Linked DNA regions of Homo sapiens. The protein of the gene in region 3 interacts with the protein of the main gene of each other region in a pairwise test. Each region holds a gene or a part of one and is shown on either strand. Other genes may lie near its edges.

Evidence for each region.
Region 1: the proteins of AP3M1 (region 3) and IL36RN interact in binary tests that used the Homo sapiens proteins (3 or more experiments, as listed by UniProt).
Region 2: the proteins of AP3M1 (region 3) and TRIM14 interact in a two-hybrid assay, tested with the Homo sapiens proteins (one large-scale study listed by BioGRID).
Region 4: the proteins of AP3M1 (region 3) and TRIM9 interact in binary tests that used the Homo sapiens proteins (3 or more experiments, as listed by UniProt).

The regions. Positions count from the first base shown.
Region 1 is NC_000002.12:113,055,227-113,064,502, forward strand, and holds the start of IL36RN (interleukin-36 receptor antagonist protein), read left to right. Parts: upstream 1-3,971; 5' UTR 3,972-4,015; intron 4,016-4,185; 5' UTR 4,186-4,212; coding exon 4,213-4,241; intron 4,242-5,625; coding exon 5,626-5,711; intron 5,712-6,897; coding exon 6,898-7,025; intron 7,026-7,226; coding exon 7,227-7,451; 3' UTR 7,452-9,276. UniProt on the Homo sapiens protein: Inhibits the activity of interleukin-36 (IL36A,IL36B and IL36G) by binding to receptor IL1RL2 and preventing its association with the coreceptor IL1RAP for signaling.
Region 2 is NC_000009.12:98,083,162-98,089,513, forward strand, and holds the end of TRIM14 (tripartite motif-containing protein 14), read right to left. Parts: intron 4,845-6,352; coding exon 4,309-4,844; 3' UTR 1,192-4,308; downstream 1-1,191.
Region 3 is NC_000010.11:74,131,877-74,139,774, reverse strand, and holds part of AP3M1 (AP-3 complex subunit mu-1), read left to right. Parts: intron 1-843; exon of another isoform or gene 844-969; intron 970-1,392; 5' UTR 1,393-1,395; coding exon 1,396-1,668; intron 1,669-2,971; coding exon 2,972-3,143; intron 3,144-5,610; coding exon 5,611-5,748; intron 5,749-7,898. UniProt on the Homo sapiens protein: Part of the AP-3 complex, an adaptor-related complex which is not clathrin-associated. The complex is associated with the Golgi region as well as more peripheral structures.
Region 4 is NC_000014.9:50,981,061-50,989,830, forward strand, and holds part of TRIM9 (E3 ubiquitin-protein ligase TRIM9), read right to left. Parts: intron 5,107-8,770; exon of another isoform or gene 5,085-5,106; coding exon 4,896-5,084; coding exon of another isoform or gene 4,864-4,895; exon of another isoform or gene 2,362-4,863; coding exon 2,320-2,361; exon of another isoform or gene 2,222-2,319; intron 1,906-2,221; coding exon 1,882-1,905; intron 1,440-1,881; exon of another isoform or gene 1,263-1,439; intron 1,044-1,262; coding exon 740-1,043; intron 1-739. UniProt on the Homo sapiens protein: E3 ubiquitin-protein ligase which ubiquitinates itself in cooperation with an E2 enzyme UBE2D2/UBC4 and serves as a targeting signal for proteasomal degradation.

The DNA.
Region 1 (9,276 bases), on a different chromosome or scaffold from region 3:
TGGAAGCTGCCAAGGGTTGGGATTTACACCCTCTAAAGCCATGACCCAAGCTGTACCTTTGCCCTCTTTAGCCAAAGCTGGAGTGGCTGGGATGCAAGTCATCCCAAGTCCTGAGACTACACAAAGCTGCCAGGCCCTGGGTCTGGCCCATGAAACCATTTTTTCCTCCTGGACCTCCAGGTCTGTGATGGGAGGGGCTTCTGTGAAGACCTCTGATATGCCCTGGAGACACTTTCCCCATTTTCTTGGTGAAAAACATTTGGCTCCTCTTTCCTTATGCAAATTTCTGCAGCCAGCTCGAATTTCTCTTCAGAAAATAGGTTTTTCTTATCTCATCTTCATGCTGCATGTTTTCCAAACTTTTATGCTCTGCTTCCCTTTTAAATGTAGGTTCCAATTCCAAACCATATATTTGTGAATACATAAAACTGAATGTTATCAGCACCCAAATCACCTCTTGAATACTTTGCTGCTTAGAAATTTCTTTTGCCAGATGCCCTAAATCATCTCTTTCAAGTTCAAAGTTCCACAGATTTCTAGGTCAGGGGCAAAATGCTGCCAGTCTCTTTGCTAAAGCATAACAAGAGTCACCTTTGCTTCAGTTCCCAACAAGTTCCTCATCTCCATCTGAGACCACCTCAGCCTGGACCTTATTGTCCATATCACTATCAGCATTTTGGTCAAAGCTATTCAGTGAGTCTCCAGGAAGTTGCAAACTTTCCCACATCCTCCTATCTTCTTCTGAGCCCTCCAAACTGTTCCAACCTCTGCCTTTTACCCAGTTCCAAATTGCTGGGTAACAGGCAAAGTGTTAAAGTGCTGAAATGCCAATAGTGATGTCAAGGTGTGTTAGTTACCAATTGTTGTGTAACAAAGTATCAGCAAAGTTAGCAGCTTAAAACAAGAAAAAATTATTATTTAACAAAGGCTGAGAGTCAGGAATGAGAAAACTGGCTTGGCTGGAGGGTTTGGCTCAGGGTGTCTCATTAGGTTACAGGAAAGATGTCAGCCAGGGTTGCAGTCATCTGAAGGCTTGACTGGGGCTAGAGGATCTGCTTCTAAGATTGTGCATTCACAGACTGTTGGCAGGAAAAAATAGTTTCTCACCACGTGGGCCTCTCCATAGGGCTGCTTGAGTGTCCTTATCACATAGTGGCTGGCTTTGTCCAGGTGAGTGATCTAAGAGCTAGGAGGAAATTGCAATGCCTTTTATGATGCTGCCATGTTCATCATGTAACATAGCGCCCCACTCCCAGTATCAATTTACTATATCAGTCTGTTCTCATGCTGCTAATAACAACATAACCAAGACTGTGTAATTTATAAAGGAAAGAGGTTGAATTGACTTAGAGTTCCACATGGCTGGGGAGGCCTCACAATCATGGTGGAAGATGATGAAAGAAGAGCAAAGTCATGTCTTACATAGTGGCAGGCAGGAGAGCTTGTGTGGGGAAATTCCCCTGTATAAAACCATCAGATCTTGTGAGACTTATTCACTATCATGAGACCAGCACAAGAAAGACCTGCCCCCATGATTCAATTACCTCCCACTGGGTTCCTTCCATGACACGTGGGAATTATAGAAGCTACAATTCAAGATGAAATTTGGGTGGGAACAGAGCCAAACCATATCACCTTCTTAAAGATGAAGTTTCCAAGAATTTATGGACATATTTTAAAACAGCCACACATGGTTTGCGAATTGGCAGCATTGTCTTTAGGTAGTGCCAAAGTTTATTTTTCAGAAGTTCAAAACTTGACTCTCATACACACATATAGTGAGCATGTGTCAAAGATTTACTATTTTTCATAAGTGAGGGAATCAGCAAGATTATAAAGCTGATTATCAAAAGATAATTCAGGGAATGGAGGCTTATACCGTCAGTCAAGAAATAAAGGCTGAAATAGGTTGGCTAAGTTACGTTTTAAAGACAGCTTTATGACTTGTGAGGCAATAAAACTGCACCCTTTGGAGTTATCTTTTCTATCAGACAGGAATAATGTGTAATTTATCAATGTTCTCTTAGTTCATGGCTAATTTCACAGAGTCTGAGACCTAATTAGTAAGTCAAGCAAAGGGATAGGTCCAGAGAGAACTTATTGTTGGTGAGGCCTGTTTGATAATGTTTTCATATAATATTGACAGTATACACAGTCATAGTTTCATTTTACTTATTATTTATTTATTTATTGAGGCAGAGTCTAGCTCTCTCTGTCATCCAGGCTGGAGTACAGTGGCTCAATCTTGGCTCACTGCAACCTCCACCTCCCAGGTTCAAGCAATTCTCACACCTCAGCCTCCTGAGTAGCTTGGATTACAAATGTGCACCACCAACCCGGCTAATTTTTGTGTTTTCAGTAGAGATGGGGTTTTGCCACGTTGGCCAGGCTTGTCTCATTTCATCTTATTTCTACTGTCATTCCATTTGGTCAATTTGTAATTTAATAATTTTGTACAAGGCAGTTTCTACATTAATTTTATTTTTCTGAAAAGTGTCTATCATATTAGTGGCATTATGAAAATCGTAGATTATTTTCTGTGTTTTGAACAACTTGATATTTTATTTATTCTTGAACACTTGTAGGACCTCTTGGCTCATATGTCTGAATACCATTTCTTTAAAATGTACGCTTTAACATGTACACATATGTAACAAACCTGCACATTGTACACATGTATCCTAAAACTTAAAGTATAATAATAATAATAAAAGAAAAAAGAAAAATAAAACTTAAAAAAAAAGTGTATGCTTTAACAATAAATTATTAATAAATAGTTATCTGTGTTATTCAAGATATAATTAAATTGTTTTTTGTGCACTGACCCTTACCTTTATTTCAGATCCATCACAGAGAGTGCATGGAGGTATTTAAACTGCATTAACTGTTTCACAATTAAGTATTATCTTATCAATTAGGTATTCAAGAAAGATCACTTACAGAATTATAGATGGCATGAGCTAGATTTTACTTTCTAAAGAAATAACCAGATACATGAGCAAAGATGTTAATACAAAGATGTTTGTCACAACATGGTTTTCAATAGCAAAAAAAGAGAGAAAAATATATAAAAGACAAATAACAGTGGATAGGTTTCAATAAATAATGTTACAGTGATACAGTTAAATACTATACAGCTATTGAAGCATGTCATTATTCATATTTAGTATGGAAAGATATTTTGCTATTTTGCCACATGAAAAAATGAGGTTGGAAAAAGTATAGGTTTTGTGAATCTGTTGTATGAAAGCTGTCTATAGTTACATGTGTATGTGTGTGGAGGAAATAGTGTTGTCATTGGTTTTCTGATGATGCACTCAGAAAAGACAAGTATTCACATTTTTTCTTGTGGCTGATCTGGATTTTCAGGTTTTTCTACAATGAACATGTAGGCTGAACATTCCCTAAGCAGGAGAGTCCCACCTCTAACATCTCCTGTAGGCCTGGCAATGGCAGGCAGGAAAGACAGAGGAAGGAAGGAGGGAGAAGGGAAGGAGTGAAGGAAGGAGTGAAAAAGGTAAGGAAGAAAGGGAATAGGGGAGGAAGGGAGGAAATGGGAAGGGAAAGAAGGAAAGGAAGGAAAGAGGGAGGGAAGAAAGGAAGGGAAAAGGGAGGGAGTGAGTGAATGAAAGATGGAAAGAAGGAAGAAAGGGAGGGAGGCAGGGAGGAAAGAAAGTCGCGCTTCCCTTGAGCTGCCATGGGCACTGACTCTTAGGGTCTGAAAGCCCCTGAGATGCAAAAGCCTAGTGCTCACAAAGAGCTGGAAAGCCTCAAGGAAGTTCTTCAATATTTCTGGAAGGAAACTGTCTCCAGAAGCTTCCCTCCCCACGACAGATAATGAGCAGCAAGTGCTTCTGGCGACTTAGGGTGATGTGAAATCACGCTGGGAATCCTGCTCCTCCTCAGGTCCTGGCAGTTTCAGGGCCCCTCCCTAGGCCTTACTTAAAAGGCTGAGGCATCCTTGGAGGAACAGGCAGACTCCACAGCTCCCGCCAGGAGAAAGGAACATTCTGAGGTATGCTCTGGGGCGCTGGTGGTACCGGAGCTCTCTCCTGACCCCAGACCCAGAATCTGCTCCGTGGAGGCTGTTCACATGCTGGGGAGCTCGGTGCAGCTGCTTGCTCCCCAGACCCCAGCCAACTCAGCCTCTCTCTCCATGATTTTCTGTTGTTTATTCCAAAATAGGGGAGTCTACACCCTGTGGAGCTCAAGATGGTCCTGAGTGGGGCGCTGTGCTTCCGGTGAGTGTATGAGGCCCTGGTTTGGTGGTGTCCTCCGGAGGAAGTGAGTTCTGGATAGACCCGTTGTCCAGCTCTGAGCAGGAGGGAGGAAGGGAGGGGCTGCCATTGCAGCTGGGAAATTGTGACCAGCACCTCACTGCTCTTAGAGTTTTCCCAGCCTTTTTCAAATAGGGGCAGGACTGGGGCAGGCCATCTCACAAGGGGTCCCTGATGCTGAGGGGGATAAGTGAACCTCCCAGTCTAGAGCTCCAGCCAAGTCTATCCAAGGTGGGAACGGGGGCCAGGATCCCTGCTCAGAGCTCCGCCATTGTCCCCCATCACAGTGAATGGATGTAAGCTCACCCACTCTGTGCCCCTGCCTCCCTGCTACTCTTTGGGGATAATAATAAAACAAAAACCATTACCATCAGTCAGTCTGTCCACCCACTGGCATGTACCAAGCCAGACACTCTGCCGTGTTCTGGGCTTTACAACAGAGGATGAGAGTGGTCCTTTCTCTCAGTCTAATAAAGCACTTCCCATGATGTGTTCTATGGGACTCGATTAGAGGAGTCCCACAGAGGCATCCAGGAGATGCTTTACACAGTGGAGCTCTCTGATCAAGTAAATGCAGGGAATTCTGCTTTCTACATCCTCTCATAAGAGAACCACAGCCCAGCTCAGCATATGAGTGACTCTGAGGTTTTCTGAAGTAAGGCAACTTGTTGAATTGTATTTAGCCATGCATCGACCCAATTTTTACACTGCATCCTTTTCCCCCATATAACTTTTGGAGAAACCCACTTTAGGATACATCTTCCACCTCATAGGATGCCAGGAAATCAACTGAGTTCAAAGATGAGAAACAACTTTGAAAAGTTAAATAAAAGAAATTTAAATTTAAAGAAACTCCTCACTTAGTAAGGAATATATGACCAAATAGAAATACATGTATCTTGAAGAATTGAAGAATCAGGCTTTAACGTGGAAGAGGCCTGGATGTTATCCAACCCATCATCTTAGTGTAGCAATGGGGAGGCTCAGGCCCAGAGTGGGCGAGAGAGTTGTCTCCTGCGACTCAGCAGCATTGGAGGCAGAGATGGGGCAAGAACCTAGGGCTCTGACTCACCGTGCAGCTTCTCTTCCAGCAGGAGATGGGTTGGGGCAGAAAAGGTTGAATAGGGTGAAGGAGCAAACCACAGACTCCAGTGGGAGACTGTGGGGTCATCCTCCTTGTAGGGCATGAGCCCAGCAGGGCTGGGAGACAAGGCTGTGCTGTTACTTCTGGCACAGTAGGAAGAAAGAGAGACAAAATGCCTGAGATCAGGGGGTTCTCTGGATCCAGGGCATGCTGGAGTGTCCACCCTCCTCCTAATGTAGTCCTCACCCCTTCCTGATGTTTCAGAATGAAGGACTCGGCATTGAAGGTGCTTTATCTGCATAATAACCAGCTTCTAGCTGGAGGGCTGCATGCAGGGAAGGTCATTAAAGGTTGGTGATGAAACATGACCCACTTTCCTTGGTCTCTATACACTCTCAGGGGAGGGGGCCTGAAGAGGGCTTAGAATAGTCATACAGATTAGCATAGGCCTACAGAGCCCAGGCATTGGGGCAGCACAAACCAGGCTCTAAGCAAAGGCAAATAAAATACTACACCTCTCAGCAAAGTGAAGACACAGGCTCTGGGGCCACCTGAAGCTTCTATGCAGAAGTGGGAATGTTTTCCAAGAGGCTTGTCTTGTCATTCCCTTACAGGTAGATTTAGGTCAAGCATTGCATTCCCTGGGAGCCAGTAAGTACCAAGGAGAGAACTAACGTAGATTCTCTATACCTTTTTTCCCATATGGGAGTGGGTTTCTGCCTCTCCACCCTGGGTCCCCTCTGCTCTCTGAAGATCCTCAGTCACTTAGAGTGGAGGGACCCAGAGAACAGGTGGCATTGTTGGACCTCCTGCTTGCTCACTCTGCCCCATGCACTGCAACACGTCCCTCTCTAAAATAGTTTGCACCTGCCCACCTGGGGCACCCTTGCTGAGCACAGATGCCAGGTAGATCCTTCAGCTAGGCCATATGTGTATGTGTGTGCTTACTGGTGTATGTATGTGTGCATGCAGGCATATATGTGTGAGCATGTGTGCATGCATGTATCTGTGTGTAACCATGTATGTGTGAGTGCAGGTATGTAGGTATGAGCATGTGTGTGTATATGTATATGTGTGCATGCATGTATCTGTGTATGTATGTATCTGATGTATGTGGGTGGTGAGGGGATGTACAGAGAGGAATGAGACCCTCTTTTGCTCTCAGCAACATCACAGGGTGTAGAAAGTTGTCCAAACAATTCCAAAGGGGGGCTTATCAAGACAGGGTTCAGAAAAAGGCCTGAGACCCAAGGGACATTAAAGGAGGGGGTTGAATCTATTTTGGGGTGTAGAGGCTTGAAGATTTGACCCTGAACTAGAGGGTGGAGTGGAGGTGGTACAATGTGCTTCCATGCCTTGATGTCCACTCTGAGCCAGTGGACAGGAGAAGCCATGTCATGACAGCTGCTGAGAAGCCTCCCTTCTGCCCAGCCTGGGGGCAGGCCGTCTTACAGCAGTCCTGTGCCCTAGAGCCCAGGACAGGGGAAGAAGGAGGGAAAGGCATCCAGGGCCCTGCATCTGGCCTCTTTCCCACAGGTGAAGAGATCAGCGTGGTCCCCAATCGGTGGCTGGATGCCAGCCTGTCCCCCGTCATCCTGGGTGTCCAGGGTGGAAGCCAGTGCCTGTCATGTGGGGTGGGGCAGGAGCCGACTCTAACACTAGAGGTGAGACTTGGGGCATCCTCACTGGGGACTCAGCCACAGATGCTGAGCCTACTGAAGCCGGGCAGCCCACAGCCCTGGTGCTGTGGGACACCCTAGCAGGATTCTGTTGATGGCAGCTTTGCCTCCTCCCTAAGGATCCTGCCCAGCCCTCCCTCTGCCCCTGCTTCTGCCCTCACCTGACCTCCCCTCCTCTGCCGGCAGCCAGTGAACATCATGGAGCTCTATCTTGGTGCCAAGGAATCCAAGAGCTTCACCTTCTACCGGCGGGACATGGGGCTCACCTCCAGCTTCGAGTCGGCTGCCTACCCGGGCTGGTTCCTGTGCACGGTGCCTGAAGCCGATCAGCCTGTCAGACTCACCCAGCTTCCCGAGAATGGTGGCTGGAATGCCCCCATCACAGACTTCTACTTCCAGCAGTGTGACTAGGGCAACGTGCCCCCCAGAACTCCCTGGGCAGAGCCAGCTCGGGTGAGGGGTGAGTGGAGGAGACCCATGGCGGACAATCACTCTCTCTGCTCTCAGGACCCCCACGTCTGACTTAGTGGGCACCTGACCACTTTGTCTTCTGGTTCCCAGTTTGGATAAATTCTGAGATTTGGAGCTCAGTCCACGGTCCTCCCCCACTGGATGGTGCTACTGCTGTGGAATCTTGTAAAAACCATGTGGGGTAAACTGGGAATAACATGAAAAGATTTCTGTGGAGGTGGGGTGGGGGAGTGGTGGGAATCATTCCTGCTTAATGGTAACTGACCAGTGTTACCCTGAGCCCCGCAGGCCAACCCATCCCCAGTTGAGCCTTATAGGGTCAGTAGCTCTCCACATGAAGACCTGTCACTCACCACTATGCAGGAGAGGGAGGTGGTCATAGAGTCAGGGATCTATGGCCCTTGGCCCAGCCCCACCTCCTTCCCTTTAATCCTGCCACTGTCATATGCTACCTTTCCTATCTCTTCCCTCATCATCTTGTTGTGGGCATGAGGAGGTGCTGATGTCAGAAGAAATGGCTCGAGCTCAGAAGATAAAAGATAAGTAGGGTATGCTGATCCTCTTTTAAAAACCCAAGATACAATCAAAATCCCAGATGCTGGTCTCTATTCCCATGAAAAAGTGCTCATGACATATTGAGAAGACCTACTTACAAAGTGGCATATATTGCAATTTATTTTAATTAAAAGATACCTATTTATATATTTCTTTATAGAAAAAAGTCTGGAAGAGTTTACTTCAATTGTAGCAATGTCAGGGTGGTGGCAGTATAGGTGATTTTTCTTTTAATTCTGTTAATTTACCTGTATTTCCTAATTTTTCTACAATGAAGATGAATTCCTTGTATAAAAATAAGAAAAGAAATTAATCTTGAGGTAAGCAGAGTAGACATCATCTCTGATTGTCCTCAGCCTCCACTTCCCCAGAGTAAATTCAAATTGAATCGAGCTCTGCTGCTCTGGTTGGTTGTAGTAGTGATCAGGAAACAGATCTCAGCAAAGCCACTGAGGAGGAGGCTGTGCTGAGTTTGTGTGGCTGGAATCTCTGGGTAAGGAACTTAAAGAACAAAAATCATCTGGTAATTCTTTCCTAGAAGGATCACAGCCCCTGGGATTCCAAGGCATTGGATCCAGTCTCTAAGAAGGCTGCTGTACTGGTTGAATTGTGTCCCCCTCAAATTCACATCCTTCTTGGAATCTCAGTCTGTGAGTTTATTTGGAGATAAGGTCTCTGCAGATGTAGTTAGTTAAGACAAGGTCATGCTGGATGAAGGTAGACCTAAATTCAATATGACTGGTTTCCTTGTATGAAAAGGAGAGGACACAGAGACAGAGGAGATGCGGGGAAGACTATGTAAAGATGAAGGCAGAGATCGGAGTTTTGCAGCCACAAGCTAAGAAACACCAAGGATTGTGGCAACCATCAGAAGCTTGGAAGAGGCAAAGAAGAATTCTTCCCTAGAGGCTTTAGAGGGATAACGGCTCTGCTGAAACCTTAATCTCAGACTTCCAGCCTCCTGAACGAAGAAAGAATAAATTTCGGCTGTTTTAAGCCACCAAGGATAATTGGTTACAGCAGCTCTAGGAAACTAATACAGCTGCTAAAATGATCCCTGTCTCCTCGTGTTTACATTCTGTGTGTGTCCCCTCCCACAATGTACCAAAGTTGTCTTTGTGACCAATAGAATATGGCAGAAGTGATGGCATGCCACTTCCAAGATTAGGTTATAAAAGACACTGCAGCTTCTACTTGAGCCCTCTCTCTC
Region 2 (6,352 bases), on a different chromosome or scaffold from region 3:
CCACCTCCACCTGCTCCTTAGACAGCAGATGTTTCTGGGCTAGGCCCTGTGTCAGCCCACTGGAGACAGAAAAAGATCCAGTGATGCAATCTCTCCTTCAAGTTGGCCAGCTTAGTGCACTGGCCAACAGTGCATTATAAACAGAGCACCAGAAGAAGGGGTGGTTCCAAACAAAGTCCATATCCTCCAGTTGCTGGGTGGCTGCAGAGAGGGGTGAGAGCTGGCTGCACATGTCCTTTCCTTTAAGCCTTCATTCTCACTTCCTTACAGCCCTTTACTTCTCCATTGTCTTTATCCCTTTCCTGCCCTTGGCCTCTGTGTTTAGTTGGCATTGTATAGCAGTCACTCCACATCAGAGAAAGGACTGGTCAAAGGATCTTGTAGGCAGAAAATGCTGAAAGCACTCCTTTCAGAGCAAAGAGAGGGAAATGGCATGTGTTCCTTCTCTGAACAAATATTGAGGGCCATCTTTGTGCCAGGCACTGCTTTAGGCACAGAGTATATGGCCATGAACAAGCCCCAATCCCTTCCTCAGAGAACTTCCATTCAGATGGGGGCAGATGCATAAAAATCCATAGCATAGTGATTCAGTCACACAATATGTTAGAAGGTGGTATGTGAGCCAGGCGTGCTTGTGTGAGCCTGTAATCCCAACTACTTAGGAGGCTGAGGTGGGAGGATTGCTTGAGACCAGGAGTTCAAGCTATAATACGATCTTGGATGGGAACAGGTGGGAGTCAGGGTTTGTTTACACGTAAGTGAGAACTTTAATGAGTTATCTTCAGAAGCAGTGAATGCCCCATCCCTGGAGATAGTTAATCAGGGAGCAGCTGACTACTACCAGAAGGCTGCGTAAGGAATAAGATATGAGTAAAGGCCCTTCTGGGTCTGGGTGCTAGGGACTTGAAGCAACATGAACTGGAGGGAGCTGTGATGTGGACACGCTGAAATCGGTGGGGAGGAAGCGGAAGATTCAAGGGACCTCAAGAGACAGAAGAGTCAGGACTGGATGACTCCCATTCATTCACAAATGTTTACTGTGTGCCTACTATGTGTCAGGTTCCTGTGCTGTACGAGGGAGAAGGTTCCCAGGCTGCGGATGATGTATTCAGGATGCTGAGGGCTTACCTGTGGGGGTATCACTGGGTGCTAGGGACTTGAAGCAACATGAACTCCCAGTGAAGACCATGGTTAAAAGGGACATTATTCACATTTTATTAAACCAAATATTAGAAAATTGCTGTCATTTAAAAATATCTGCAAGCAATTTGCCATATCAATAAAGAAATGTCTACAGATTCAAGTCTGAAAGAGAAGAAGGTAAGTGATCAGTAACCCTTACAGACATGGAAACCAAGGAAGCCTCATTCCTGTGCTGAGAATATTCTAGTAGCTCCTGCTGCTGCCACATGGCAGCTGGGAATACCAGTAGTCTCAGCACTCGGTCAGTACCGTGCAAGCTCCCTTGGGAATGCTGATAAATCCTGGCATGATACAGCAGTATATATGTTTTTTTTGTTTTTTTTGAGACAAGAGTCTTGCTCTGTCCCCAGGCTGGAGTGCAGTGGTGCAATCTCAGCTCACTGCAATCTCCGCCTCCTGGGTTCAAGCAACTCTCTTGCCTCAGCCTCCCTAGTAGCTGGGATTACAGGCATGCACCACCACGCCCAGCTAATTTTTGTATAGGACTATAGTTTTAAGGCAAGTTTATAACCTTTGGCTCATTTGAGCCTCACAGCACTTGGTAGGTAGTGCTATTATCCCCATTTTATAGATGGCACTGAGAAGTAAAAAGTGACTAGCCCTGGTCACACAATTGATATGGACTGAAACTGCCGCTTTCTGGCTATCACGGGCCTTGACACAGCTAGTTTGTGACCTTTACAGTCTAGCTCTGTCTCTGCTACATGAATCCCAAATTTTTGAATCAAGTTCCCCTCTGGGCCATAAGGCCTCATCTCAGACCCCCAAGGAAGGCAGTCCAAAGGTAGACTCAAGTCTCGCAGAGTAACCAGGCACTAGGAAAGCATCATGGGCAGTAGCTCCACGAGAGGGGCCAGAGCACCAGGCACTGGCCAGAGACCAGCTGCATTCACCCTGAGCAGTAGGGCCTGGTGGCCATGAGCACAGACCTGGAACTCACAGCCTGGGCCCAGACTCCAGCTCCACCACTAGCTGTGCGACCTTGGGCAAGTGACTCTGGGTCTCCATTTTGCCATGTGTAGAATTGGGAAAACTTTCTACCCTCTAGGGCTGATGAAAGGATCAGATGAGTTTAGTCGTAAAGCATTAAAACAGTGCATTATAAACTATTAAGAGCTGTTATTACTTGGCCCCTGCAGCTGTGGGTCTGGGAAGAGGTCTTGGTCATCAGGGATGGGCAGAAATGTTGGGGTCAAGTGTATTCATCTTCCCTCTGTCAGGAACACCCTCTGCCTGTCACAATTCAGTTTGGGCCATTCCTAATAGAATTAATTTCCCCTTTTTCTCAGGATTCCTGCAGCATAGTGCTTAAAACTCTGTCCAGCCAGAGTTTTAAAGTCTTTGGTTAGAAGTTAAGGTGTTTGCAAGGTTCTGTCTGCCTGGTATTCTGCTACATTGTCTCATATCAAAAGTGCCATTTTTAACTCAAAAACTATTGAAAATTGTCAGTTTTATATGGTTCAAACTAATGCACTGAAAGTCTATTTAAACCACGAGGATTCGGCGACCTTGGCCTCCCACCAAGCACCTATGAAGATGCTTTAACAGAATATAACTTCAAAACCGTCTAGGGAATTGACAAAACAGGACGCAGAACCTTCAGAACGGAGACACAAATCCCTGGAAAGAAGCCTCCCACTCCCTGCTAGCGAAGGTGGCCTCCTGTGAGGGCCTACTGTTTTCTACCTCTGTCACTTCATTCCAGACAGCTGGGCACTCTGGGTTTCCTTGGCAACATCTGGATCTAAGGGTGCTCTTACCCTTTTTGTCCCAAGACAGTTGGGAAACACCACCCCCTTTGGTTGCTTAGCAACTGTCACCTGCTGATTCCTTCCCAAAATCCCCTGAGAAATGAGTAAGCAGGTTGAAAGCTGGGCCTAAGGGCTGGGCCAGGGGACAGGTCAGATGCTTGCCTGGGGGTGGGTGAACGGGGCACACGTCTGGCCCCCCTATATCACCCCGGGGTAACTTTACGCAGCTCTGCTTTCTTTCAGGACCTCAGACTCCCCAGATGAGATCTGGCTGGGTGACCTGTGAGGCCCGCCTAACTCAGCTCTTCTGTTACTCAGTGATAGGCACCTGCTGGTTATTAATTCACTGCTTGGGAGGGAAGGGGCTTTCTGGGAACTTTTCAGGGTGGAGAGAGTATAGGACAAAGCTGCCCTTCCAAAGCCTCCAATTTAGTTGGAAAGACAGGTCCCAGATTTGTGGCTCTGATAGTGAGATTCTTGTTCCTTGGTTAGACTTCCTGGCGCAGGTAAGCCTGCGGAAGACTGAGACAGGTGAAAAGACTTTTCTGCATGAATGTGCTGGCAGCAGAGAGGTGTGGAGGTGGAACTATGCGACACATTTCTGACTGGAGAGTCTCTAAGAAGAGTGGTAGGAGCTAGGTGAGGATAAGTAATTTTGGGCAGACTAGACAAGCCTTGAATGCTAAGGTGAGGCGCTTGTATTTTTTTTTGTTATTTCATGGAAACTCCTGGAAGCCTTTTCATAGCTGAGGGGTTAAGTGAAGTTTTAGGAAGATCACTCTAGTTTTAGGGTGGAAGATGAGGACTGGGAGAGGGTTCAGACCAGGAACTGCTAAGAAGCTCTTGCAGCTTCTGGAGGGAGCTGTGATGTGGACACGCTGAAATCGGTGGGGAGGAAGCGGAAGATTCAAGGGACCTCAAGAGACAGAAGAGTCAGGACTGGATGACTCCCATTCATTCACAAACGTTTACTGTGTGCCTACTATGTGTCAGGTTCCTGTGCTGTACGAGGGAGAAGGTTCCCAGGCTGCGGATGATGTATTCAGGATGCTGAGGGCTTACCTGTGGGGGTATCACTTTGAAGGAACTGGATTAAAGTAGTGTAAGTGATGGTGGGGTGAGGGTGCGGAGGTCTGATGAGAGGGCAGCAGCAGACTTGTTTAGGGCCTGTTTGAAACTAGCCTAGGAGAGGAAACCTTCAAAGCACTGTAGGCGTGATTGGTCGGGGAAAGCTGGGGCAGGGAGAGGGCCCTAAGAAGCAGGCAGTAAGGGGACCAGCCACGCTGATCTAGGTAGATTAGGCGAGACTGGGCAGCTGCGGCGTACCTGGAGGCTGTCACGCCGGTCCTGGCCCCTAGGGCAGCCGGGGGATGCTGATGGCCCCCTCCCAGAGCCGCAGGGCCGGGTAGAGCGGCTCCTGGAACGTGGCGCGGAAGGTATGCAGGTGGCTCATGCCGCCCGTCACGTCGTAGAAGGCGAGGACGCCGGCCTCGTAGTCCAGGAAGACGCCGAGCCGGTCGAGGTCGTCGCGGGGCCGCAGGCGGCTGCGCTGGCCGTCGTGGAAGGCCCAGTACTCAAGGTCGTAGCGCTTGAGGCACCAGGACTGGCGGTTGCAGCCCAGGCGGGCGGCGGCCGAGGCCCCGCGGCGCCGAAGGGAGGCGTAGGCCGCGCCCACCCACCAGCCGGCGCCCGCCTCCTGCACGTCAACCTCCCAGTAGTGGCGGCCGGTGGCGAAGCAGTCACGAGCCAGCACTTGCCAGAGCGCGTCGAACCGCAGCACGGGCACGGGCCCCAGGCTGCCCAGCAGGCCGCAGCGCACCGTCAGGCGATCGGCGGACAGGCGCAGGCGCGCGTGCATCGTGTCAGGATCCAGCGTGGGCGTGCGCGCGTCTGCAGGGGGCGAGACAAGGGACGCACCTGGTGGGCGGGGCCAGCGCGGCGCCCCGCCCCCGGGAACCCACCAACGCACGTGCAAATCACAAAATGCGAAGCGCGGAAATGGCCCAAGGAAGGGGTGACAGACCCCTTTAAACCGCGACTGCCCCTGGGGCGGGGTCTTGGGGAAAGGGGAAGAAGAGATCACTCTGCTGCACATCCCTTATACTGTCTGTATTTTGTGCCGTGAAATTTGTTGCCAATTAATACAAATTTAATTAAAACTAATCCTATCACTGTTAACATTAGGGTGTGTGTACTTCCTATCTTTCCCCTCCCCTTGCTGCTTTATAGCTTTTCTTTTTCTTTTTTTTCTTTTTTTGAAACGGAGTCTCGCTCTGTTGCCCAGGCTGGAGTGCAGTGGCGCGATCTCCGCTCACTGCAAGCTCCGCCTCCCAGGTTCAGGCCATTCTCCTGCCTCAGCCTCCCGAGTAGCTGGGACTACAGGCGCCCACCACCACGCCCGGCTAATTTTTATAGCTTTTCTTAATATTGGTGTCACACCATACATGACGTTAGGTAATCTGCTTTTTAAAATTGATTGATCTACTTGTGAGGCATTTTGACACATCATAATATCCTTTCACAAGAGCATTTTAGTGGAGATTCTAAAATTTTGATGTTTGGACGCATAACTTAGTCCTCCGTTTAAAAAGCTTTTGAAACCACTAATACAATTACATTTTTACGTATCTGATTGCTTCTGTAGAATATACTCCTAAAACAGGAATTGCTGGGTCAATGGGTATTTTTTTAAGGTCTTTGATACATATTGCAAAACTATCCTCCCCAAAGTTTGTAGTGATTTAAACTCTCATTAACATTTCTCTTTGCATTACACCATGTATGTACACATGAAGTTTTTTTTGTTGTTGTTGTTGTTGTTTTTTAAGTCTGGATCACAGGGTATGTGGATATTCAGCTTTCATAAACAAGGCCAAACAGTTTTCCATGGACATTTGGATTGTTTCCGTGTTGCCTATTGTGACTAATGTTGCTATAACTGTAAACGTGTAACAGAGACTGAGTTTTCTAAGAAAAAGAGCATTTTTCTAAGAGAAAGAGAATGAATTATTTTTAAGATTTTCCCCCTTTTTCTCCTGTCTCCCACTTCCTACTTAGCTCTTTATTTTTATTTTTTTTAAGATGGAGTTTCACTCTTGTTGCCCGGGCTGGAGTGCAGTGGTGTGATCTCGACTCACTGCAACCTCGGCCTCCTGGGTTCAAGCGATTCTCCTACCTAAGGCTCCCTAGTAACTAGGATTACAGGCACCTGCCACCACGCCTGGCTAATTTTTGTATTTTCAGTAGAGACAGGGTTTCATCATGTTGGCCAGGCTGGTCTTGATCTCCTGACCTCCGGTGATCCGCCTGCCTCAGCCTCCCAAAGTGCTGTGGTTACAGGTGTGAGCCACTGTGCCCTGCCTCTACTTAGCTCTTTAGAAATGTAATTATAACCATTA
Region 3 (7,898 bases):
CCACCACGCCTGGCTAATTTTAGTAGGGACGGGGTTTCACCGTCTTAGCCAGGATGGTCTCGATCTCCTGACCTCGTGATCCACCCACCTCGGCCTCCCAAAGTGTTGGGATTACAGGCGTGAGCCACCGCGCCTGGCCTTTTTTTTTTTTTTTTAGTAGAGACAGAGTTTCTGCACGTTGGCCAGGCTGGTCTTGAACTCCCGACCTCAGGTGATCCACCTGCCTCGGCCTCCCCAAGTGCTGGGATTATAGGCATGAGCCACCACGCCCGGCCTGAAATTGTTTTATTTCATTTTCAGTTTTGTTTTGTTTTTTTTTTTTTAATAGAGATGAGGTCTCACTATGTTGCATAGGCTGGTCTTAAACTCCTGAGCTCAAGCAATCCTCCTTCCTCAGCCTCCCACAGTGCTGGGTTTATAGGCATGAGTTACAATGCCTAGCCCATTTTTAGTATTTTATAGCTATAGTGGATAGAAATATAATTGATTTTTATATTGACTTGTGTCCTGCAAGCTTGCTGAACTAAATTTATTAGCTCTAATAGGTTTTTTTTTGTGTGTGTGTGGATTCCTTAGGATTTTCTATATATAAGATTGTATCTTCTACAGATACAGTTTTACTTCTTCCTTTCCAATTTGGAAGCCTTTTGTTTTATTTTCTTGCTTAATTGCCCTGGTTCAAACCTCTAGTACCATGTTGAATAGAAATGATGGGACTGGGCATCCTTGTTAGGTTTTGTTATTAAGGAGAAAGTGTTCGGTCTTTCACCTTTAAATATAATATTAGCTGTGGGGTTTTCATCAGGTTAAGGAAATTTTTTTTTTTTTTTTTTTTTTTTTTAGATAGTGTCTCACTTGGTCACCCAGGCTGGAGTGCAGTGGCGCAATCTTAGCTCTCTACAGCGTCGATCTTCCTCCTGGGCTCAAGCAATTCTCCTGCTTCATCCTCCTGAGTACCTAGGACTACAGGCAAGTGCCACCATGCTTGGCTAATTTTTGTATTTTTTGTAAAGATGATGTTTTGCCCTGTTGCCCAGGCTGGTCTCAAACTCCTGAGCTCAAGCAATCCGCCCACCTCAGCCTCCCAAAGTGCTGAGATTACAGGCATGTGCCACTGAGCCTGGCTGAGGAAGTTTCTTTTTGTTCTTAAATGGCTTTCTTTTTTTTTTTTTTTTTTCGTAAAAGGATGTTGGATTTTGTCAAATGCAATTTCTGCACCTTTTGAAATGATTGTTTTAGTTCTTATTGTATATCATGTTGATTGATTTTTGTATGTTGAACCAGCCTTGCATTCTTAGAATAAATCCCACTTGGTCAAGGTGTATAATCTTTTTGTGTATGTTAAATGATATTTAATGTATAATAAATTTAAACCTTTCTTTGCCCCAACAGAAAATGATCCACAGTCTATTTCTCATAAACTGTTCCGGTGACATATTTCTAGAGAAGCACTGGAAGAGCGTTGTGAGCCAGTCTGTCTGTGATTATTTCTTTGAAGCTCAAGAGAAAGCTGCTGATGTTGAAAATGTACCACCTGTCATTTCAACACCTCACCACTACCTCATCAGTATCTACCGGGATAAGCTCTTCTTTGTATCTGTCATACAGACCGAAGTGCCACCTCTCTTTGTAATTGAGTTCCTACATCGAGTTGCTGACACTTTTCAGGTTGGTTATCTATCATACCTTTCTAAGTTAAATGACCCAAGTTAGCTGAAGGTGAGACATGATTATATTATTTAATTACCCAGGTTTTGATGTTTACTGTCTGTCTCTCTCTGTTTAAGCGTAAATTCATAAGCCCTTTTCTGTGTGGTATACAGTTACACACATGGCTGCTCTATTCACTATTTTTTATATGTATTACAGATTACAGTTGGCTCTCCATATACATGGGTTCTGCATCCATAAAGTCACCCAACCTTACATGGCAAATATTTGAACAAAAAAATCGAACTGAACATGTACAAACTTCTTCTCATTATTACTTGAACAATACAGTATAACAAATAGTTACATAGCATTTACACTGTGTTAGATATTACAAGTAATCTAGAGGTGATTTAAAGTATATAGGAGGATGTGTATAAGTTATGTGCAAATACTATGCCATTTTATGTCAGCGACTTGAGAATTGTGAACTTTGGTATCTACAGGGGATCCTGGAACTAATTCCCACAAATACCAAGGGATGACTGTATATCATCAGGAAACAATAATGCCCTCCGCATACAGTTCTCTCAATGGTCTCAAGATTTTCATTGGTTATGAACTCTTCTATATTTACATTTTATTATTTTGTCTTGCGGAATATACCAAATAATTTAAGCTTATCTATATGTATTTTGGGATAATCAGGGTGAATGAAGTTTATAGCTCAAATTCCAATTTAATGTTTCAATACTTTCTGGTATAATATGTAATAGGAATTAAATTCAACCTAGAAATATCAAGAAAATATTGAGGAATAATATTAGGACTATAGAGGGGTTTTTTTTGTTTGCTTGTTTTGTTTTGTTTTGTTTTGTTTTGTTTGAGACGGAGTCTCACTCTGTTCCCTAGGCTGGAGTGCAGTAGCATGATCTTGGCTCACCGCAACCTCCGCCTCCCGGGTTCAAGCAATCCTCCCGCCTCAGCCTCCCAAGTAGCTGGGACCACAGGTGTGCACCATCACACTCAGCTAATTTTTGTATTTTTAGTAGAGACAGGGTTTCACCATGTTGGCCAGGCTGGTCTTGAATTCCTGACCTCAAGTGATGCATCCGCCTCAGCCTCCCAAATTGCTGGGATTACAGGCATGGGCCACCATGCCCGGACTATAGAGGGTTTTTTCCCCCGCTCTGTTTTATATATGTTCAGCAGCTTAAGCAATGAATTATGCTACTCTAAGTTTATTCTTCAGAACAAAAAGTATTTAGCAGGCCTTTCTTTTTGCCTTCCATTGTGTGATATTTTGTGTGTATTTTGTCAGGACTACTTTGGTGAGTGTTCAGAGGCTGCAATTAAGGATAATGTGGTCATAGTATATGAACTCTTAGAAGAAATGTTAGACAATGGATTTCCACTGGCTACCGAATCTAACATTTTGAAAGAATTGATTAAACCACCAACAATTCTACGCTCTGTTGTCAACTCTATTACAGGTAAGATGAAAACATACTGTGCTAGTAACTGAGCAATTAAAACTTTGTAAACAACTCATTATTGCTCATGATCTGACATATTATTAAGGTAGTACAATTTGGCCATAATTAAAGTTACTGGTAAAGTTAAAATGGATGTACTATATATTTATTTTCATGGAAAGAGGCTAGACCTTAAGTGATAAAGAACTTTTGGTTATTACTCTTTTTTTTTTTCTAAAACACCACAACAATATTATTACCATTATTTAACACTAAATACTAAGACTGAATAAATTGTTCCAGTTATTCCTAAAGAAGCCAGTATATGAGCCCACTTAGAAGAGAATTTAGTCCATTTATAGACTGGCATTTTAATATTTAAAATAGCATTACATAACTGGTATGCTGCTACTCCACAATTACTAGAGAATAGAAAATTTAAGACGCTTAACCACACAGTACTACAATCTCCTCCAAGTCTTTGTTTTTATGCATTCAGAAGATGTATTAAGAAAAAATAGGAAATAGTTTACTTATGAGATCTCATGCATTGTGGGCCTGTACTTGTGTTGTAAGCTTCCAGCTGGGTTTAATTCTTGAGTGTAGCTAGAAATTAGGCACATCCAGATACCAATATTCTTTCGAAAGCATTAAAGTCTTTTAGACAAAGATTCCTATGAAATGTTATATGCCACTCCAACTCCACTGTCAACCATTGTAAACCCCTGTCCAGTGCCTTGACCTAAAAATGAGGTGAGAGAGGCCTATAAGAAAAAGATCATTCAGCAGCTCTTTATTCATCCTTTGTGTAAGGACGAATGTTAGGAGAAATTCAAAGAAAGATAAGATGGTGTGTCTGTACTCCTAAAACTTATACTCTGAATGGGACATTGGAAAAAAAATTAAGTAAATAACTGTATAAGACTTTAAAAAGCAATTCCATACTTCACAGATAAAGTAATAGCATTGGAAAATAAATACACATGATGTAACGTTAAATTGAAAAGTCAGCACAAAACTGAAAAAAATTATTCTTATATATAAATATTCACTCCGACAAAAAAGTATTTACAATGATTATACCCAGCTAAATACAGATTATATTTATTTTTGCTTTATACTTTCTAATTTTCCAAAATAAACATGTATTTTATAGTCAGAGAAAAGTTACTAAAATATATAATGCAAAACATAACAGATTCATTAGATAGTGTATTACAAAGTTCAAGAGAATGGTTCCATTAATGAAGTAATCCCTCCTGAACTGTGGTGGGTGGCCACCTTGGAAAATCAGTAGAATTCAGGAAGTGAGGAAGGAATAAGAGCATTCTCCATGGTGGAACTGTATGAGAAAAAAACACACATGAAAGAGAAAAACCTAAAGTTTTATTAATCCCTTTAGCAGAAGCAGAACTGTTTTTCACTTGAGAAGTTAGAGATCAAATTAAAAAGTAGAGAAAGTCCTTCAAAGCTAGGATAAATATTTAGCTTTTATCATAAAGCCAGTGAGCAAACATTGAACGTTTTTGAGCAGGAAGATAACATGATTATAGGTTGCAGGTAGGAACACCAATCATAAGTAGACTGCAAAATTGTAGATACAGTATGATTGCGACTATATTTTAAAGTGCAATTAAAAACCAAAATTATCAAAATAGAAAAAAATGCAACCTTCTGGTGGTGGAAATATTCAAAGAAATATACCAAAATGTTAATATTATATTAAAATGTTAATACCATAATATTAACAAAAATGTTAATGGTAGATATATTTTGTTAGTAAGAAGACAGGTGTTTTTCTTTAAACCACTTCTCTGAACTCTACCTTTTTGTTGTTGTTAAGTATGTAGTACTTTCGAATGGGAAATATAAATTAACCAAAATATTAAGTAAGTCACAGCTCAAAGATATGTGTTTTGGACAACCAGACTTATTTTTAGGCATGTGTCAGTTTACCAGGAAATGAGCTGGATACTGAATACTAGCTATATTGCAGCCGTATGGGTATGCTGACCTTAAAATAGGAAAAGGCCAGATTCCATTTACTCCACTGAGGCGTGCTTGGCAGCATCTCATGTAAAATAAAGTTGAATACTGAAGGGCCTAGTTATAACTCTGTATTCTCACTGGAGACATTTTATTGGCAGAAGGTTTTGAAACAACCAACCTCTTTTTTCATCAGTGGCAGAGATTCTGTTGTTGAGCCACTGGAATTAGATTAGATTACTGTTAACACACAGGAGGCAAAAGATAAGTAAATAAATTTAACCTGGTTTGGCAGGTAGACAGAGGGCCACATGGCCTATATTTCTTTTCTAGAAATTTGATCATGTTGGTATGGATATGTCTGACAATTCTAGTGACCATCCACAACTTCATTAAGAAAAATCCAAACATTGAAGAAGCAGCTTTTTTTTTCCTAGTAATAAATTTTCTCATGACTGTTTTATACATCAGCTTTGCCTTCTCCTTTTTTGGTTTCTAGGCAGTAGTAATGTTGGGGACACACTCCCCACCGGGCAGCTGTCCAACATACCATGGCGTCGGGCAGGGGTAAAGTACACAAACAATGAAGCCTATTTTGATGTTGTTGAAGAAATAGACGCAATTATAGATAAATCAGGTAATTGTGTGCATGTCATCTTATTTGGGGAAAAACAATTCATCTGACACAGATGAATAGAAAACTGAAGTCCTGGCCGGGCGCGGTGGCTCACGCCTGTAATCCCAGCCCTTTGGGAGGCCAAGGCAGGCGGAACATGAGGTCAGAGTTCGAGACCAGCCTGGCCAACATGGTGAAACTCTGTCTCTACTAAAGATACAAAAAATTAGCCGGGCATGGTGGCGCGCACCTGTAATCCCAGCTACTCGGGAGGCTGAGGCAGGAAAATTGCTTGAACCCAGGAGGCAGAGGTTGCAATGAGACAAGATCATGCCATTGCACTCCAGCCTGGCTCTGTCTCAACAAAAAAAAAAAAAAGAAGAAGAAAGGAAAAGAAAATTGAAGTCCTTTGGCAGTATGGTTTCGGTGGAAAGGCATTCATTATCTGATGATTTTTAAATCTGTTTGTTTATTTATTTATTTATTTGAGACGGGGTCTCACACTGTTGTCCAGGCTGGAGTGCAATCACATGATCTTGGCTCACTGGAACCTTCACCTCCTGGATTCAAGCGATCCTGCTGCTTCAGCTTCCCAAGTAGCTGGGATTACAGGCATGAGCCACCACACCTGGCTAAATTTTTTTTTTTTTTTTGAGACGCAGTTTCACTCTTATTGCCCAGGGTGGAGTGCAATGGTGCAATCTCAGCTCACCGCAACCTCCGCCTCCCGGGTTCAAGCAGTTCTTCTGCCTCAGCCTCCCGAGTACCTGGGATTACAGGCATGCACCAGCATGCCCAGCTAATTTTGTGTTTTTGGTGGAGATGGGATTTCTCCACGTTGGTCAGGCTGGTCTCGAACTCCTGAACTTAGGTGATCTGCCCGTTTCGGCCTCCCAAAGTGTTAGGATTACAGGCGTGAGCCACCGCTCCCGGCCCTGGCTAATTTTTTGTATTTTTAGTAGAGACGGGGTTTCACAATGTTGGCCAGGCTGGTCTCAAGCTCCTAACCTCAAGTGATCCACCTGCCTTGGCCTCCCAAAGGGCTGGGATTACAGGCGTGAGCCACTGCACCTGGCCCATAAATCTGTTTATTTTGCCCATAGGTTACATATAATTTTCATAACCACTAGTTGAGGTCTGCCAAACATGTAAATCAGAACTCATAATGCCTTACTTTAAGCCAATTATTACCCTATGTACCTCTACCTCTTGCTATTTATTCCTTCTAACATTTATTGAAAATCTGCTATATACCATGCTTTTGCTACTACATTATGTGCAGTACTTCTGGTAAAAGCCCCTATCTGATTATTTTTCACTTTCTTTTTTTTTTTTAAGTACAGGGTCTTGCTCTTTTGCCTAGGCTGGAGTGCATTGGCGCAGTCCCTGCTTACTGTAGCCTTGACCTCCAGCTCATGTGATCCTCCTACCTCAAACTCCTGAGTAGCCTATAGTCCCAGCCAATCAGGAGGTACACGCCACACGCCACCATGCCTGGCTAACTTTTATTTGTTTTTTTTGTACAGACAGGGTCTCACCATGTTGCCCAGGCTGGTCTTGAACTCCTGGGCTCAATCAGTTTACCTACCTCAGCCTCCCAAAGTGCTGGGATTACAGGCATCAGCCACCACACCCAATCTGATTATCTTTTTAACCAGACAAAACAATAGTACTCTATAAGAATCGTAAAATTTTATTATTAAAAATAGCAGCCGGGCATGGTGGATCACGCCTGTAATTCCAGCACTTTGGGAGGCCGAGGCAGGCAGATCACTTGAGGTCAGGAGTTTGAGACCAGCCTGGCCAACATGGTAAAACCCCGTCTCTACTATAAATACAAAAATTAGCTGGGCGTGGTGGCAGGCGCCTGTAAACCCAGCTACTTGGGAGGCTGAGGCAGGAGAATTGCTTGACCCTGGGAGGCAGAGGTTGCAGTGAGCCAAGATTGCACCACTGCACTCCAGCCTGGGTGACAGAGTGAGACTCCATCTCTAAAAAAACAAAAAAAGAAAAAAGAAAAAAAATCTAGTCCTTCCTTTACATTTATTTTACACATAAGGAAAGCCCAGAAGGGTTAAGTGAACTGTTCCAGGTCACACAACTTGTTAATATGTAATGATGGCTTATTGTGAATTATAGTCAATATCTTCTCTTCCATGAGTCCCCTTTTC
Region 4 (8,770 bases), on a different chromosome or scaffold from region 3:
AGAAATTTCTCTGCCTAGGAAATTTGTGAAAAATACATTTGAGGAACACAATCAAATGAGAAAGGAAATCCATTATAGTATGTGTTCAATTATAATGATCTATATTTTGGTGGTAGAAGAAAACCTCAAGGAGATTACTGTATTTCCTTTCCTTAGCAAACTGGCTGCTCTGGATTAATACAGTAATAAGAGAGTTCTCTATAAGTAGAAAGCCATTCAAATTGGCATCCATAAGCTTTAGTTTAATGAATCGTAATAAGAAGAATGGCTACTATTTTCAGGTGCTTCCAATGTAAGGCATTTTCACATATTTCATTTAATCTTCAGAAGATTCCCACAAGGAAAAATTTTATTGTACTAATTTGATGGATTTGGAAACTGAGGTTCAAAAAACGAAGTAACTTGCCCAAAAGTGCTTTTCTGTTAAGTTGTAGGTCTGGGTGTTTCAGCATCCTGGATTGTTTTCTTATAATGGATATCCATTGGGATTCTTAGTTTCCAGCCATGGGTGAAATACAGCAATGAAGGGAGTAGGAAAGTACTCAAGTCTCTATCATTATATAGAAAGTAAACCACCAGCATGGACTCAGCTGAGGCTCATAGATTGCCTGTGCTACTTAATGTAGACCACCTGTTTGATTTCCTGAATGTGGTCTATGTAATAGGTTTTTGAACTGGGGCTCTCACTCCTGATCAGAAGCCAACGTGAAGAAGGCTTGGTTTGGGGGCTGCAGGGTACCTGTTGGTGTGCGAGTTGTTGTGCATGAACCAGCTCCGGTTATTGTCCACATACATTGCCCAAGCTTTGTCGTCTTTTCCTAACATCACATCCTTCATCACGTCCATGCGAGCCACACCAAAGGCAGGATCAGGGTGGTTGTCATAGCGATCTACCGTGAGCTCCCAGTAGTGGATGCCCTTGGAGAAGCCAGTCTTCCCTAGCACCACCCGGTCATCATAGCTACTACAGGTCACTGTCAGGTTGTCATTGGAGAGGATGATGTCCGAGTGCGCCGAGCCAGGGTCGAAAGCAAACCAGGCCACTGGGAACAACAGAAGGGAATCAGGTTATTAAGACAGACCCAACAAGCTCAGCACCATAACATACTCCTGGGCGGGTGAGGAGCGTTGTGTAGCGTTTTCATGCTGCCATGCAGGAAGGAGGCGTCCAGGGCCAGGGCAGACAGGGGCACGTCCTGGGAGTTGGTACTCTCTGCACCAGAAGCAGACGGAGGACACACGACCGATTCAGCAGGGGTTACCTGGCTCAGACTGCACTCCCAACCAGGTGATCCGGGAGTGAAGTGGCATCGATTTTGGAAGGTGCAAGTCCCTTCACCTGGTGACTGGCAGAACAGTGCACCAGAGACATAAAGGGAGAGGGGATGCGCTAAGATGCCTGTGTAACCCCTGAGGCGGGGAGGCTAGGAGCTAGAGTCCTAGATGGAGGAGGGATAAAACACATGGAGTGAAATCAGGAAATATCCCTTCGGCAGAAGTGCTAACATCTAGTCGCTTTGAAGTCTTCCTCGGCTCTAGTGAAAGCTCACAAGCTGCGAAGCTATAAGCAACATAAACTAATTTTCATGAGTGATTGTGACTTGCATGTAGGACAGGTTGCTGTCTGCATAACTTAAAAAACACAGTTTGCGTGCTACTCCTGAAACTAACACGTCAGAAATTTTGCTGGAGCAGTAGGAATTTCGGACATTAGGTGCAGATAGAATGATGTCTTTGTACGCATTGTTACGCCCCAAGTTCTAAATGCCACCTATAAATATCACACTCGAGAGATGTAATTGCTGATTTATTAAACCTGTGAGACACCTCACATGCACTTTGGTCTTTGCTATTTGGTAACAGAATAAGGTTATTCCATACCTGCCAACAGCTTTTTAATGTCAACTGTTGTCATTCCAAGTGAAAGGCATGGGGGAGAGAGATAGGAAGCAAAATTGACATGGATAAGAAAATGTGTCTCTCTTGATAGACTAGTACCCCAAAAGGACTCAATTTAAAATGCCACATATACTAAACAGGTGCTCTCTGACTTGTACCTTTACCCACATTTAGTGCTCATAAAGAGTGCTTTGCACTGATGTAAAAGAAAACTGGGGGAAAAGTAAGGTTTGAGGCATAACATTAAACACTACAGGCATCTTTTCCATTTTTTAAGAGTTTGAGAAACTGCTATAATAGGGTTAGAATGACAATTAGACAATTTTATTGACATAAGACAAGTTGCCGCCATTTATTTTGTGAAGGAAATTGAGCACACCAATCACGTAAGTAAAAGATAATTACAATAGGTATACTTGCCTAATTGAGAGTAAGGTGCAGATTGTGTCTCAAAATTGCATCCTATAAAGAGATACTACACATCAACGCTATGAAACAACAACCAGGTTGATAAAAATTACTTGTATACGCTTAAAAAGCACCAGTTGAATATAGATACCAGAGGCCTGATCCATGAAAAAACAAAGCCCTTTTTATATTATTTAGTTTGTTGGGTAAAAAACTGCCCCTCTGCTCTTTCAAAATGAAAAGCACATCTTTTTACCATTTAATAAATCCTCCTCCAATTGATCCTAAACTCTGTAGCTGAATTTTTCATCTTCCAAGTTCAATCTTTTCCTCTAAAGTTTCCACAGTAAGAAGGCTAGCTGTTTTAAAAATGGGGAAAATGTACTTAATTGCAACGGAGAAATCACTGGATTTTGATAAAACTCTGCTCTCACTATTCTATGCACTTCTAACTCTGGTTATGCCAAAAGGTCTTCATTGTGACTTGAGCCCAAATTAAATATAACTAAATGTGTAATGTAATCCATTTGTGAATACATACATCTTATTAATAATTATTAATAATGACATGACGAATGTGTTAAAACTGCCTCCTTTCCTTCTTAGGAGACAAGATCCTTCTCACCTGAGGGAGGGGAGGAGGGATGGTAGGAGTGGGTGTGGTCTCAGAGATACATTGGAATCCCCTGTGGAACTTTTTCAACCATCTCCCTTCCTTAAGATTTGGATACCTGTACCCCATGAGAAATTACATTGTGTGGAGGAAGACTGCCTAGTCTTAAAATGTTCAAAAGTGTGTGACCTACAATTTCCAGTGGTTTCAAGGACTGATCTAGAAAATGTGGTTTTGATGAACACTGGGGGATAAAGAAAGGATCATTTTATTTTCTTTTCTATTTAGTAAGGCCTTTATATGCTAATTCCTAAAACATTTGCAGGATAATGTGCTGACTTAAAAGAATTTTACAAGAATTAAAAAAGCAACTTACTATAAAAAAGGACTAATGGCTGAGTTAAAAACAAAATATAAAAATTATGATCTTACTTTTGGTTAGTTTGCTTTTCTCTGGGATGAATTCACATGCAAAAGAATCGTTTCCTCCCATCTCATGGCTGATTTTTATGTTTTGTTTCTATCAATTATCACTTCAATTCCTATTCATGTGTTAGAGCATAGTGACTATGGAATACCTGGAGTTTTAAAACCGACTCTCATATTCAGCTTGGAAATAAGTTTGTAGAATCTGAATAGGGCTTTAAAAACTTTTAAATGAATCATGCCTTGTGCAACTCTTTTTCAAAACAAATATTCTGAAATCTTTTTACACTACTTTAAATACATTATCATACATTTAAGATTCAACAATACAGCTAGAATAATGCTCTTAAATACACCCATCAAATATCCCAAAACTCACATTTCATTTTATTCTTGAGACAATGTGCATTACAAAGACTGTAACGATATTTCAGTACATTAGACACAAGGGAAAAGAGTTTCATAACAAAGCATGTTGGGAAGCCATAGTGCACAGAAAAACAATAAGAAACATAAAAGCACAAAGAAGAATGTCATTTTAAAGACAGCTTGAAGTCCCTGCATCCTTTTTGCACTGTCATGCTGTGGCCTTCTTCATTCCAGAATGTGGGATGAGCAAAAAGAATAAAATAAAAACCAAAAGAAACCTTTGGAAATATGAAATGTGCATCATGTGTATCCATGATTACAATATAGTCCTGAAGAGATCAAATAGGTCTGCATCTTATATATTTTAACATTCTATTTGCTAGGCAGTGTTCGCTACAAAGGAACACAAGTCTAGCTTTGCTGAAATCAGCCTTAGGCTCTGTCACAACCAGCTTGGCTGTGGGAAACTTCGAGGAGTCCAGACTTTTTGATTACTCAGATCTTTGGTCATTAGGCATTAGGAGTTAAGGGTTTCTAATTCGGCTAGCAGTGATCCCACCCCATTGCTAGGAAAACACTCAGCCATGAGCCCCACTGTCCTAGCAGTGAGCACAGGCTTTTGCAGAAAATGCTTTCACTTTCTGCTCTCTGGATTGCCTGCTTTATAGGATGCTTTCTGCTGTTGGTGTGTTTTTACTTTTATTGTACTTTGTCAATAAAGATCTCTTGAGTCTATGTTTAATCAGACCACTCCAGGCTGGATGCACTGATCCAGTCTCCCAGACACTGCTGGTTTCCTGGATACAGAAGGGCTGCAAACCTCCACATTACTGCCATGGCCGCCACTCAGCCAGCGCCCGTGCCGTGCTATGCCACTGCATGTGATGACAGAGCGGGTTATCCATGGTGGTACCAGCTTGTGCGAAAAGAATAACTTCACTCATCACTTTCTAATGCCGTAATACATGGACCACAGCTCCATGGTTGCTCCTTCCACCACACAAACAAGAACGCCACAAAGCTCCACCATCCCGATGCTCCTCATACGGAAAGCAGGCCACAGACAGAGACTAGCTCATCCCCCTCACCACGCACATGAATGGCAAGAACAAGACACGCGTTTCAGAGATGCCTTCAAGGCACAGAGATCAAGGGGAAAGGTCTGAGGAGCTCAGCTCACCCGGTGCATTGAGAGACTGTAAAGAGGAATGCAAGCTCAGCTGGTGGGGTGAGGATCGGAAATCAAAGTAGGATCTCCCGGGGAAGCTGGGTTGTAGATTAAGGGTGGAGGAGAAAGGACTCATTCTACGGAGCGGCAATCTTTCCGAAGGCACTGGAAAAGGGAGGGTCTGTTCTTCTGAATCTGTGTCTAAATGTAAGATCAATGCAAACTAGAGATCAGAAGTCTGCTATTATGTCCCCGTGCACGGTTCCCCAAGACCTGCCTTAACAATGCATTCATACAAAGCCTCATCTTTCCCACAGGGTGCCACACTCAGGCATTTACAAAACCAATGTGCCTGGGGGCAGGGAGGGAATTTTCGGCAGATCAGGACCCAAGACCAGAGGACACCTCGAACAACAAAGGCAATTGTTGTCACTTTCCCGATTTTTAGTGGTAGAAAATTGGAAGGTTTCCTTTTAATTAAATAAAATACTTTTAGAATTGAATGTACAAAATGTAAAGGCAAATTTTACCTATTGATGACCAAGAGGATATTATTTTACCCCCTTCAGTTGTCCTGGGAGTTACTACCTATTCAACAATGGCCTCTTAAAGGGTTTCTATCTAAGAGATGGTGATTTTTTACAAACTGTTTCCTATTCCATATTTTCCCATTTCTCTCCTAATGTGTATTTTTCTATTAGATGGATGAGCTGATTTTTTATACTAGCACACTCCAGACTCTATCTTTGAATAGGAGAGGAAATGTGGGGTGGTCTAAGGAAGACAGGGCTGGACAAGTAAGCAGGGAAAGAGCCTTACCTTTGTTTCTGAATTATGATCAGACTCTAGGGATGTCACTTGACCATCTTTGTTTCTCTAATGATAAACAGACTGTAGGCAGTGGTGAGGTGCATTGGTGGCAAAATATCTGTTTCTGTTCAGATAGTCAGGTTTGGCCTGAAGATAATTATTATATCAGACTAAAGACTTAACAATTATTTGATCTGGTTTTAGAAGGGCATGAGTTAGTTTCTCTGAATTACTAAAATTGGTCCTTTCTATTTTGTCAAACAATAGCTGGTTCTATGCACGGTGTGGTCTAGTCAGAGGTGGATCTTTCGCCAATTGAAGCCTTCTTAACATTCAGTCTAATAGCAATAATTTAGGAAATACAGATGGTAGGAAGGTAATATGCCATGTCCAAAATCACAAAGGAACTTTCTTCTCATTGAAATAATAATTTTGTTTCTGTGACCAGAGGGTATTTCCGTGAATTTTTTTCTGGTTTGAATCAGTTAGCAGCAATTCTTTGCTGGACATACACTTCTATCAAAATGTTACTCGCATGTTGAAGCAAAAATAACTGGAGCACGTGTGTGTGCAGAATATCATCCTATGTGAAGAGCTCTGAACAAGGGCATTGGCAAGTTTTAATTTAATACCTCCAAGAGTCAGCCTCTGAACTTACAATATTAAAGTTAGCTTTTCAGGCTTTAGACTTATCTGTGGGGGGATGACTTTTAAAAAATGAAAGTATAAACCAGATCTCAGAGAAAAGGAATTGCTATTTATGGAGTCAAGACTTTGTGTTCCCACTAAGAATACATTTTTCTCCTACCTAAACTTCATATGGTTTGAATGACTTAATATCATGTATTATCATTTCTTTCTTCAGATATGATAAATCAAAAATTATTTGTTATAATCATCTTAAGGGGAAATTAGCCTTTGAGTGTAATAGAAAAATTCAAAATACAACACCCAAGCACCACAAACTGGCATGGGTTTCTATTATGGAGCGAAGGCATTTACAACTATATTTATGTCAATAAAATATTTTATTTATTTATTTATTTAGTATTATTTATTATTTTTTGAGACAGGGTCTCACTCTGTTGCCCAGGCCAGAATGCAATGCCACGATCTCAGCTCACTGCAACCTTTGCTTCCTGGATCAAGTGATTCTTCAACCTCAGCCTCCAGAGTAGCAGGGACTACAGGCGTGAGCCATCACGCCCAGCTAATTTTTCTATTTTTTGTAGAAATGGGGTTTTGCCATGTTGTCCAGGCTGGTCTTGAACTCCTGAGCTCAAAGCGATCTGCCTGCCCCAGCCTCCCAAAGTGCTGAGATTACAGGCGTGAGCTACCACACCCGGACTAAAAGATTTTTTTATTAACAAGAATTTGCTTGGAAATGTATTTTTCACTAGGTGTGACAGTCAATTCATGATATTGAAAATATTTGTTGCTTTAAAATTTAATGGAAAGGACATATAAAATAATATGAATTTCAGAGTGCATTGAATTCCCAAGCAGTTATCTGAAAACCAGTGAAGAGATGTTTACTGAACACAGACCTTGGGGAGTGTATCCAATCCCATCATAAATTGTACTTACCTTTTCTATTCTCAGCACCAAGAAGAACTTAGAGTAGGTGATGACACCCCTTTATAGGGTGGGGACTGAGGGTAGCTATGGTTATTCACGGGATTAGTAACTTGGCATTAAGATGGTTATGGCTCTTCCTATCCTTCCATGTGGATCCATTGTTTACTGATGACCCAATTTTCCTTGACTCCTTTCACTCTAATCAGGCAAGTTTATTTAACATCCATACTGTACAACCATTTCTTTTTTTTTTTTTTTTTGAGTTTTTTCCCCATCTATGACCTCCCATTACCTACCAGCTGGGCTTTTACCGTATTTTCTCTAAGTAGCTGTTAACAACAACAAAAAAATCCTACCTTGCAATGAGAACTTTTCAAATGAATTACAAGAGAGAAACACTTTCCAACTGATCCCAGCTTAACTAAACAAGCAATTCTCCCTTCATGCCCTTCCCCATGGGCATGTAGTGCACATGCTGGGTCAGCTGCCTGTAAGTCATCTATACCACTTCACATTACCTTAGATTTCAGGAGTCTTAGAGGGAAGAAACTTAATATCATCAGAGGAGCTGCCATCAAGCTTCCCCTTGAAGTCCCCTGGGATGAGGAACTCATTGCTTCCAGCCAGCTCCCTCTAGTTGGCAGTTATTGCTTATATTGGTCTAGACATACCTCTTTGGGAGCTCCACTCTCCAATTGTAGCGTTACTATCTGGGGCCACATGGAACAGATCACTAGTTCTTCAAGTATTTGAGGCCAGTCACCAATCCTCTTTAAATCTTCCCTTTTCTGGGCTAAATAGAGTCAATGTCCAACCATTTCACTATGTATGGATTCCAAATCCTTTACTCTCCTGGTCATGCCCTCTGGACATGTTCAAAGGCATGAATCAAAGACAATATGACAACATTGAGAACAGTATTGCCACTCCCTGGTTTAGCCGAATCACACTTAACACACATTGAATGTGCACACACCTACTTAAGTGCGTATTCTGCGTTATGCCCATGGGATGCAGGAAGAAGGCACACACTACTTCCTCACCTCCCCTTCAAAACACAACTATCACAATATGGAGAAGGCTTCTCAGCCATTCATATTCTATTATTAAGGACAAAGAGGAATGAGGTTGTCATTTTTTTTTCACAATACATGATACAAAGCTATGTTTCAGGTCACAGCTAATATGCAGGATAATAATTATTATTAATTTTTAACTTTATAGATCACTAGAGAAAAATGAGGAGCTCCTGAAGAGACGTTTAACATCACATCATATTTCATCACACGCAGGGATCCCGTGTGGTTGCAGAGCTTTGCTGAATGAAAGCAGTTTAGCAGGAAAGAGCAATGGAAAACAGTATGTCAATGGCCAAATGTGGTGACTCTAGGCATAACTATAACTCTAGGACGGGACTGTGTTCGTAACGAATACGTATCAAGATATGCTTTCCATCAACTCTGTCAATGACCATCATTTTCCTCTTGCTCTTTCCTGGA